Linked DNA regions of Homo sapiens. The protein of the gene in region 1 interacts with the protein of each later gene in a biochemical or structural test. Each region holds a gene or a part of one and is shown on either strand. Other genes may lie near its edges.

Evidence for each region.
Region 2: of the proteins of PRKCE (region 1) and GNA13, one has a biochemical effect on the other in vitro, tested with the Homo sapiens proteins (one study listed by BioGRID).
Region 3: of the proteins of PRKCE (region 1) and IKBKB, one has a biochemical effect on the other in vitro, tested with the Homo sapiens proteins (one study listed by BioGRID).

The regions. Positions count from the first base shown.
Region 1 is NC_000002.12:46,144,675-46,148,327, forward strand, and holds part of PRKCE (protein kinase C epsilon type), read left to right. Parts: intron 1-418; coding exon 419-557; intron 558-3,653.
Region 2 is NC_000017.11:65,046,650-65,050,302, forward strand, and holds part of GNA13 (guanine nucleotide-binding protein subunit alpha-13), read right to left. Parts: intron 1-3,653. UniProt on the Homo sapiens protein: Guanine nucleotide-binding proteins (G proteins) are involved as modulators or transducers in various transmembrane signaling systems.
Region 3 is NC_000008.11:42,277,715-42,281,367, forward strand, and holds part of IKBKB (inhibitor of nuclear factor kappa-B kinase subunit beta), read left to right. Parts: intron 1-3,653.

The DNA.
Region 1 (3,653 bases):
GTTTCGTTGATGTCCCTATGTGTCATGCTGGGAACCCCAGCTGATCCCCATGGTTAGTTCATGAGGGACAGGGGTAGATGCTTCTTTCTTTCATAGCAGGATCTCATTAATATGAATGTGGGTGCATAGCAGGGCTTCTATATATACCTACTGACTTAGCTCTATTAAACCACAGCAGTCTTGATATATTCCTGGGGTTACAGAAGTTCCTCCCTCTTGCTGAAGAAAGTGGAGGTGCCGTTAGGGGCTGACTAACATGAGAGAGAGCCCCTGGACTGAGATGGGTTTCAAGAAACACAAGCTTCTTTCAGGACTTTTTTGCTGGAGATTTCCCTAAGATAGGCACATACCTCCAACTCAGGAAGACTATATTGGGGTGAGTGACGTATTGACATTATGGTCCTGGCCTATCTTGCAGGGATTTGAAACTGGACAACATCCTTCTGGATGCAGAAGGTCACTGCAAGCTGGCTGACTTCGGGATGTGCAAGGAAGGGATTCTGAATGGTGTGACGACCACCACGTTCTGTGGGACTCCTGACTACATAGCTCCTGAGGTAAGACCTGTGTGCAAAGGTTCACCTCCTCCTGGTGCCAGGACCGAGGCAGGGGTCCAAACCCATGCACTGGGGTCATCTAGTGGTGCTGGGGGAAGGCTCTGGAAATCCAGGATGGATTCTAGGAAGGAGGGAGAAAAGGAAAGGAAAAAAGTTTGCTGATTGATGTCTGTCAAGAAGTCCTAGTGTTGGGGAGATGATGAGTGAAATGAGAGTAACAGGCTATTTCCCAAACCCGGGCAAGTTCACACTGAACATCTCTTTCCCATCCTAGTCCAGAACCACCAATAAATCTAGGACCAAGAAAAACGTGTTGACTTTTATTATTGTTTTCATGTCTTTAAAATCAGAACAGGGTGGGCACAGTGACTCACATCTGTAATCCCAGCACTTTGGGAGGCCAAGGCAGGTAGATCGCTTGAGCCCAGGAGTTCAAGACCAGCCGGGGCAACATGGTGAAACCCTGTCTATATAAAAAATACAAAAATTAGCCAGGCATAGTGGTGCAAACCTGTAGTCCCAGCTACTTGGGAGGCTGAGGTGAAAGGATCAATTGAGCCCAGAAGGTTGAGGCTATAGTGAGCCATAATTGCACCATTGCACTCCAGCCTGGGTGACAGAGCAAGACCCTGTCTCAATAAAAAAAAAAGTAAAAAATAAAATCAGAATAAAGGAGCATCATTGATCATGGGAGCACTTCACTTTATCAGCTACAATTTGCTAACAGTAAAACTAGGAACTGTTTGCTATTTCCTGCATAGTGGCAGTTCTATGCTGTGAGTACACAGGATGGAGCAGGAAGAGGAGAGTGACTGTGCCTCATTATATACAGATATCAGAGATGTTCACTGTGAACCACTCCAATAGGTTGCCTTTCCTGAAAGTTGTTTGGGATGTTTTGCTCAGCATGAAGTGTTTGTTTGCCTTATTCCTGCCCAAACTGAGAGATAACTAGTGTGATGTGATTCAGATTTAAGACATGGCCTGTCATAGACAATCAAAATGATCTTCATGGTTCTGAGACATGTAAGATAGGAAAGAAGTACCAATCCCCACTAAACATCGCCCATGGCGGATAGGTATTAGCACATTCAGAGCTCATTTCTTTCAGTGGGCATTGTTTGAGCACGTGCTAGGCACAAAGCAATGTGGAGATAAAGAACTGACTGAGACACTTGTCCCTATTCTAAAGAAGCTTTTGGTCTAAAGGGAGTGATAGATAAGTAAACAACTAATTAAGCAGAATAAATAGGCACATAAAAGAAGATGGTATCCTCAGGGATCAGGAAAGGCTTCTTGGAGCACCTGGTGGATGAATTGAGTTGTAAAGAATGAGGATTTCCTTTGACGGAAGGGGTGGGGAGGGTATTCCTGAAAACAACAGGATTGGAACGGGGGCAGGACAGGAAAGGAGGTTCAGTGTCCCTGGGCCCTGGATCCTTTGAGGGCAGGGTCTGTGTTTCTAATCTGGGTACTGCCAGGATCCGGCACACAAATCAGGATCTTAGAAAGGTTTGTTAAAAAATGACAACTTATGACATTCCAACATGAGCAAAGGCCAAGGGACAAAAACATCTTGGTCTTTTCCAGGACAGTTAAAAAGTGTAGCTAGATCATAGGGTTTCCTGGTGCTCATAGTAATGAATGAGATTGGGATAAAGACCCAGTGAATGTGGCTTTGATCCTGTAGGATCTGTGGACCCACTCAGGGTTTCAGTGGAGGAGAGTCCTAGTCAGATCCATCCCAGGAAGAAGGAAGGCCACAGCTGTGCAGATCAGAAGGCAGGGAGTGAGGGACTGATGGTCAGGAGGCTTCACAGACCACACAAGACAGGGGAGGCCTGAGGAACATCTCGAAGTGAAGGTGATGAGTAATAGGTAGTTTCCCTTTAGAACCTTTATCTTCTAAGAGATCTAAAGAGTAGGGATTTCAGTCTTTCTGCAAATGTATTTCCTTAGCAAGAACACTAGGAATTCAGCCTTCAAGGAGCAACAAATGAAAGCAAGAGCTTTCGACAGGGAACTGCTTTTCTCGTGTTCTTCGTTCATTCTTCATTGTCAGAATACTTAGTTCCAGTTCCTCTCTAAGTTGATGCCATCATTCATTCTTCATTGTCAGAATACTCAGTTCCAGTTCCTCTGTAAGTTGATGCCAGAGCCTAACAGTTGACAGCCCATGTTATAGTTAAGGACCCAACCCAAGACAGAACATTCACTTTATAATGAACAAAATAGCCACTCAGCTTTCATGAAAAGCAGTCCATTGGTGAGACTCACAATGAACAACTCTGATCTCTGTTCACAATGAAGCACAGACACTCTTCCTTCCTGCTCTGGCCTTCGTGCCCACCGTGCAGAAACATCTCTGCACTGGCAATGACAATCCCTGGTCTTGCTGTAGGCAAATTACAGCTGATAAAGGTATTGCTGCCTTCATCGAGGGCTACTGGGAAGATTAAATGAGATTATGCCTCTAAAGCATTAGCCCAGTGCCCAGCCCACAGGGAGTGCTGGCTAAATGGTGGCTTCATGGTTATCATCATTGTTGGGTTGTGTGATGGGATAGGAAACGCAATCCTGAGAATTGAGTCTTGAGTCCAGATTTGACCACAAATGTACACATGAGCATTTGATGACTTGATGAAGTCACAAAATGTTTTTGAGTCTCAGGTTTCTCATCTTTCACATGGGAGCCATAACTCCTTCCCTACCTACCTCATCAAGCTGCTTTGAGAATCTAATGAGATTAGAGCATGGAAATGCTTGAGAAAGCAGAAGCCTCCATTCAAATGGGAGAGGTGGTAAGGTGCTGAGCTAACCTCAAAACCAGAGACAGCTTTGGAGGCATGAGGTCTGCCCCAAGGCTTATCTTCCTGCCACATGATATGCCCCATGGCACCCCCTCTGCTTTCCCACTCCCAGCCCCTGCTTCCCAGGAAGTGGCCACCAGCCTTTGGTAATAGCATCATCAGGGCCAATGCCTTCTCCCTTCTCCCTTCTCCCGAGCTCTGACGCACTTGAGGGGTTGGCTCCAGGTGACTTCCCGTGACATGGAAGCCTTGCCCTTCTGCCCAGATCCACTGCCGACAGTTAATT
Region 2 (3,653 bases), on another chromosome or scaffold:
AATCCAAGGAGTCCTTTGGCCATTATGCTTTTCTTTAAAGTAAGCTCACAAACCTTTTTCCTGGGTTAGGTCCACGCTCTAGGTAAAGAGTTCTGAAACTAAAGTCTACTTTTCATAACAAAACTATTTACTTGTTCCATCTCTTAGTTGTTTAATAAACATTTTCAGAGAATCATAAATTATTGTGCCCCTAGCTTTGTTTAGCAATAAAAGGTAATATAGAAAGCAGCACAGTATTTTCCAATTCCGGAAGCTTTAGCACCAAGAACCCAGACATCCTACAGCCAGTCAAGTTTTCACCCAAAAAAATGCGAACATGAAAATTTCAACATAATAGAATACAAGTGATACCACCTATGTGTGCATGCACACACACTTCACAAAGTTGTATTAAAACTATAAGTGTAAACTTAAAGGAACTGACGGAAATTTTAAAAAAGAAATTAATTAAAAAGAAAAAAACTTCATTTTTAACGTAAATAAACATAAAGCTCTGGGTTTACAAGATTTGGATAAAATGTAACCACTCTGACATCTGATCAATTTCATCAAAAGGAAATTAAACTCAACTTTAAAATCTCTACTATCTCTGGCTGGGTGAGGTGGCTCACTACTGTAATCCCAGCACTTTAGGAGGCTGAAGCAGGAGGATCACTTGAGCCCAGGAGTCCCAAGGTTACAGTGAACTATGATCACACCACTGCACTCCAGCCTGTGTAACAGAGTGAGACTCTGTCTCTAAAAAATATTAATAAAGTAAGATAAAAACCTCTACTATCTCTAATGTTATATATAATCTTTATTTTAGATGGGATGAAATATTTAACACTAATCCTAGAATCAAAAGATAACCAATAGGTTTTTAGCAACTCAAAGTCCTTGCTTGACTATACTTATAGAGAAAATGGACCAATCATCCAAAAGAAACATAGTATTTTACAACTGAAAGTAGCAATTCTTTAATATTTAAAGCAAATCCAAATTAGCATTAATTAATAAATGACTCTGATTCTTTTTTTTTTTTAAGAGGGAGGGGGCTGTCCTCACTATGTTGCCCACATTGGACTTGAACTCTTGAGGTCAAGCAATCCTCCTGTCTCCCCAGAAGCTGGGACTACAGGAGCTTCAAATGACTCTTGATTGTATTATATTTCCAATACATGCTGCAGTGCAAATAAATAAATAAAAAAAATTAGCTGAAACTGAAGTTTCTAGAATACTTAGTTGGACCTCCCCTTTTTACAGGCCAATCATGGAGCTAAATGGTTACTTTGTTACACAGATTGAGGGAGTAAATCTCTGTGTTAATGAATACACTATCTTATCGGCTTCAAGAAGAGTAACCTCAAGCACAAAAAGAAAAGAATTAAGTCTAACTGAAGGTACCATGATTAGCAAAAACACTTTGGTTTCAGGAATTGCAAAGACAGACTGGCCATTACAGGAAGTTGTATTAATGCTGACAATGTTAAACTGTTTACAGAAAGTAGGAAGCTGTGGGATGTTCCTCCCACTGTCACACACACTGTCCTGTCCTACGTAACAAGTGTTGCCTTATTTCTCAATAAGTGAATATAAATTAAACAAAAAAAAATAGTTGGAAATGACTCCTAGCCATTTTGTCAGTTTTCATCCATATCTCCAATTGTATCATCCAGCCAACCCCTGACTCCCATCTCTTTATTCATCTGAGTTACCAAATTATCTAGCTATTGTCACATAAGAAGGTTTTCTAAAGACAGGGTAACTCAAAAGTGCAGTGGCAGGCTATGTTGAATGTACAGCCAGAGTAGAGTATTTCAAATATTTAATTCAGTACTAAAACAGGCCACTTCTTACAATCTATTATCCTCAGTATGCTAATTTATAATAACTAGAAAGGTACCTTAAGTTATAACGAGAATGTGAATCTTGTATTTTTCTTTTCCACAGTAAGCTATTTAGCTGACCCATGATGGAACTAACCAAAAAAGGAAATGTTTACCTTTGGGAACTTAGAAAGAAAAACATTCATGTTTACACCCAAAGTTATTACTAACAAATGAGTAGTCTGCTAAAAACCTAAGCTGTGTTATCAACACCCTATCCCTTGTCCCGAAAATTGATTAAAGGGCAGTTGTTCATCTTAGGCAAAATGTTAAGTCATGTAGGGCCTTAAAACCTGTCAGTTTTTAATGTGCATTAATAAGTTTAATAATCAAATCATTAGTTGAAACGAAAAGGTTAATTTTAATTTTAGTTATTTTATCTGCTAACCTCTATTTCTTCTGATGTTTACCTTTCCTATCCAAAATTCAAAAATATGCTGCTAAACATAACAAAACACATTTCAACCCCCCCAAATAAAAATTATAATTACACAAGAACTGTCCACTTCCTAGAAAATTAGGAAACTATTATAGAAATAATCCATATTTCCCAGAAGGAACTTAATGTAGAATTAAATTATATTACATATTTTTTAATTTTTATTTTTTTGAGACAGGGTCTCACTCTGACGTTCAAGCTGGAGTGCAGTGGCATGATCTCCACTCACTGCAACCTCCACCTCCTGAGTTCAAGCGATTCTCGTGCCTCAGTCTCCTGAGTAGCCAGGACTACAGGTACATGTCACCATGCCTGGCTAATTTTTGGTTTTGGTTTTGGTTTTTGGTAGAGATGGGGTTTCACCATGTCAGCCAGGCTGGTTTCCAACTCCTGACCTCAAGTGATCTGCCTGCCTCAGCCTCCCAAAGAGCTGGGATTACAGGTATTTTATTTTTTTAGAACATCTTTGTAATTAAGAATGTCTGAAAAACGAGGAAATAAAAGTGTCAGGCACTATGCTAGTAGGAGAGAAAAAGACAAACTAGGCATACCAAAGGACTTCTACATGACTGACAGCCACACATGAAAGCTGTGACTCTAACACACATAATGGGTACTGTGAGGAGTGACAGGAGTAAGCATGCTAGGGAAAGCAAAGGACACGGAGATCTCCATTCTAGCCAAGAAGACTGGAGATGCTTCAAATAAAGAGACACAGCCCCTAAGGCACTGTTCCTGGGGAAAGGGAGGGGGCATGGAGCAAATTCATCCAAACCACCTATGGCTATTTGCTGAAAACACAGATCACTGGGTCCCATCCCAGAATCCAGAATCAGATCCTCAGGTATAAAGTCTGAGCATCTGCTTGTTTGTTTTAACAAGCATTCCAGTCCATGGGGTCCATGGGCCACATTTAGTGTGATTATCACTACATTAAGTGAAGGGTAAGACCTAGTAACAGATAGGGTAAAGAATAATTCTGGCAGAGGGACTACGCATGATGAGAGCTATAGAAGCAAAAAATTAGGGTATGTGGGAATCAAGAGATTACAGAGTATGTCCAGTGGCCTAATGAAATATATTGCTGGAATCACAGGTAAGCTAGCTAGAGTCTTTACTCCCACAAAAAAGCTGAGCTCTGTTCTGAAGACAATGGTGAGCCACCAAAGCTTTCTGAGCAAACCAATGCTGTGTTTGAACAAGACTGCCTTGGAGTCCAAGCAAGAGGTAGCAGAACACAAAATAGAGGAAAGGAGGGAATGAATGCAAGAGACGTTACAGAGGTAGAAAAATCAGAACTTGGGGAGCTGCTGCATGTAGATGAGTAGATGGAATTGATGATGACT
Region 3 (3,653 bases), on another chromosome or scaffold:
TGGTTCTCCCGGTGAGTTCCTCTGGGCTGGTTCCTGTGCCGCCCTTCCTGTCTGCGTGTGGAGTAAGTCTTGTCAGGACCCTGCATTCCTGGTCAGCCAGGGCTGGGTCTGGCCTTTGGAGTTCCTTCAGTTCTCCTGTAGCAAGTGCCTGACGTTGTATATGTGCTAGGTGCCCCAAATCATCCACTCTGCCAGTCCACAAATATTTATCGAATGTCTATTATGTGTACATTGGTAATTAAAGCAGACCTTTGGAGAAGGGAAGGAGCCATTAGTCAACTAATTATAAATGTAAGCTCCTAAGTATGGTAAAGTGTGAGTTGGGAGAAGGACCCAGTGCACTGAGACCTTCCGTTGGGGTGGGATCAGTCAGTGTCAGAGGAGGTTCCCCAAGGAAGTGACACTTGAACTGAGGCCCTAGTAGAAGTCAGCTTGACAGAGAAGGTGGGAGGAGAGTTCCAGGCCAAGGGAGAGGCTCCTGAGGGGCCTCTGTGGAGGGCAGGTGTGGCAAGTGGGCAAGACTGAAGGCCAGCGTGGCCGGAAGGGAGGATGGGGCACAAGTGCCTGGGTGGCTGAGGGTGGACGGTGCAAGTCAGATCCTGTGGTGTTTTTTGGGCAGTTTCAGCCGAGGAGGTTTTGTTTTGATGGAGGAGCAGTGGAACGATGTTAGAGGGAGGCGCTGTGCCCATGGGGACAGATTGGGAGGGCCCAAGCAGTGGGCAGCGTGCTGGGAAAAAATCAGCTCTCGGAAGAAATGCCTTGATCCATAGTGTGCAGCAGTTCTCATGGAGTAGCTACTCCCACCAGGGCTGACTTCAAGCCACCAGTAGTTTAATAGCCCGCTCCGGCCTGATTCCTGAGTAGTTAACAACCAGCTCTCAGTGACTGCTACTACAGTGTCACTGGCTCCGTCCCAGTGATGCAGGCAGACCAGGTCTGAATGTTTTGGAGTCGTCTAGGTGAGAGATGGGGAGAGGTGGGCAGACTTAAGAGATATTTAGCCTGGTGCAGTGGCTCATGCCTGTAATCCCAGCACTTTGGGAGCAGAGGCAGGTGGATCACCTGAGGTTGGGAGTTCGAGACCAGCCTGACCAACGTGGAGAAACCCCGTCTCTACTAAAAATACAAAATTAGCCAGGCATGGTGGCGCATGCCTGTAATACCAACTACTCAGGAGGCTGAGGCAGGAGAATTACTTGAACCCAGGAGGTGGAGGTTGCAGTGAGTCGAGATCGTGCTACTGCACTCCAGCCTGGGCAACAAGAGCGAAACTCTGTCTGAGAAAAAAAAAAAGAGAGAGAGAGATTTAAGGGGTGGAATTAACAGCGCTTAGTGGTGGAGTAGAGGTGGAGGGGAGCAGGAGGAGTGGAGTGCCTGCAGGTCCTCAATGATGCCTACCCGTGAGCCCGGCCCAGGCCAGGAAGCTCTCTACCTTCCTTCCCCGTGGGTTCTCCCCAAGTTTGGGAAATCTCTAGGGCTGCTTTGGGTGCTGAGGAGAAGTCTTTGATCATTGTCCAAGTTCAGAAGATGAGCGTGTATGTTCTCTGTTGGGAACCCCTCTGTTCACAGCCTCTTAAAAGAAGCAGCTGGGCTATGGTGGTGTTGGTTCCTTGACTCTGATGGTTTTACTCCACGTAACAACAGTGTGCACTTTCCTGACACTCCATGCACTGCATCTTGTCTGCAGAAGAAGGAATGTTGTAGTTATCACAATAGAAGTTACATGAAAAAGCCCCTAAGCATGGGTATCCTCAGTCAGAGAAGTGGCCTGATAATCAGAGGCATCATTTACTGAGAACCTGCTATGCGCCAGCATCAAACTAGGTATTTACGTGCTTTCTCTCCAGCCCTCACAACTCTGAAAGGAAGTACTGTTGTCTTTGTTCCCATTTTATAGTTGAGGAGACTGAAGCACAGTCTCTGTGACTCACCCACAGACCTGAGCTCGCAAGCAAAGAGGCTAGGATTGGAACCTGCGTCTGTTCGGAACCCAACCTCATGCTTTTTCCATTGTGCCTGTGGCTTCTCTGTGGTGAGGACTCAGGGGGAGGCCTTGGTGTTCCTTAGGCTCTCATTGTTCACCACAGTCTAAACCTTTTTGAAGCAGGAAGGGGAAAACACTTCTTTATTGATTTTTTGTTGTTTGTTTTTTGAGACAGGGTCTCCCTCTGTCACCCAGACTGGAGTGCAGTGGCTCGATCAGGGCTCACTGTAGCCTTGAACTCCCAGGCTCAAGGAGTCCTCCCACTTCAGCCTCCTGAGTAGCTGGGACTACAGGCGTGAGACACCACGCCTGGCTAATTTTTTTATTTTTGTAGAGATGAGGTCTTTCTATGTTGCCCAGGCTGGTCTGGAACTCCTGGGCTCAAGCAGTCCTCCTGCCTTGGCCTCCCAAAGTGCTGGGATTTCAGGCATGAGCCACTGTGCTTGGTTGAAAAACACTTCTTTGGAGGACAAAACACTTATAAGTCTTCCTTGTTAGACAGAGAACCCCACATTGAGTGTTTCCCAGGGAGGGAGGGCAGTGAACAAGCGAGCCCCACCACAACCTGCTTCCCCTGTTCTTGTGGTTCTCCTGCCACGCGGGCCTCACCATTCCACATTGTGTCGGGACTCCCTAAGACCTCCAGCCCAGGGGTCAGCACAAACCACTTCCCAGTACCGTTTAGATAGGCTGATATTTTCAATGAGACCTTTGTTAAATACAAAGGAAGAGGAGGAGGAGATAACCGAGTGCTCCCACCTGGCAGCATGTTTTGGGAGTGGGGGCGGGAAACACGATACTCAGTCACACAGACCTGGGTTCAGATCCTGGCTCTGTCAGCGTCTTGGCTGTGGGTCCCCACTTTTTGCATGGATTATGGGGATTCTCCAATACTGATCTCCTCAGTGCTGGGTCCCCAACATGGCTGGGCAGGATGTGGGTCAGCTACCTTCTGGAAGCCACCCAGGGTACCTTGTGATATCATCATGTTCTGTGTACACTTGGCTGTGAGGAGGGCCAGGAAGCGCTGCCTGGGGCCCTGCGGGATGCTCGTTGGGGTGGAGGAGGCAGTGTGTGTACTGGCTGTTAGAAGGCAGAGTATTAACGATCCCTTCTATGAAGCAGCACGGACCTGTACTTGTCCCTTTATGGGACAAGGCAAAGCTTTCCACAGCTTATCTGTGTGCTTGGAAGCCTTAAAGCCTCTGCTCCGTTCAGTCACTTCTCTAGGGATTTATAGAGCCTGGGCCCGAGCTCTGTCAGGGATACCAGGAAAAAAGGGTCCCTGCCCTTCGTGTGCTTACTCTCTGATCACAGTGATCCAGGGAGCATTCAGAAATGCATTAAGTGAGTCTAAATCCAAGCACCGAACTGCATGGATAACAGTGGCTGCCATTTTTCCAGGGCATCATGTGGCATCTGAGCTGGGTTCCCTGTCCGCATGATCTCTCCCGAACGCTGGGGAAGGGAGGCTTCTTGGGGTGAATGGAGCTTTAGCAGGATCTGGAAAGGAGGTACACTTTCGAGGGCCTGGCAAGAAGACAGAAGCCGACTCAGGTGGGCAGAGCAGCATCTCCACAGGGCCAGAAAAGGAAGTGAGGCTGCGGTCGTTTATTCCCGGCTCCCTGTGGTCGGATGCTGTGTTTCATTTTAGCTGACATCCCTGGAG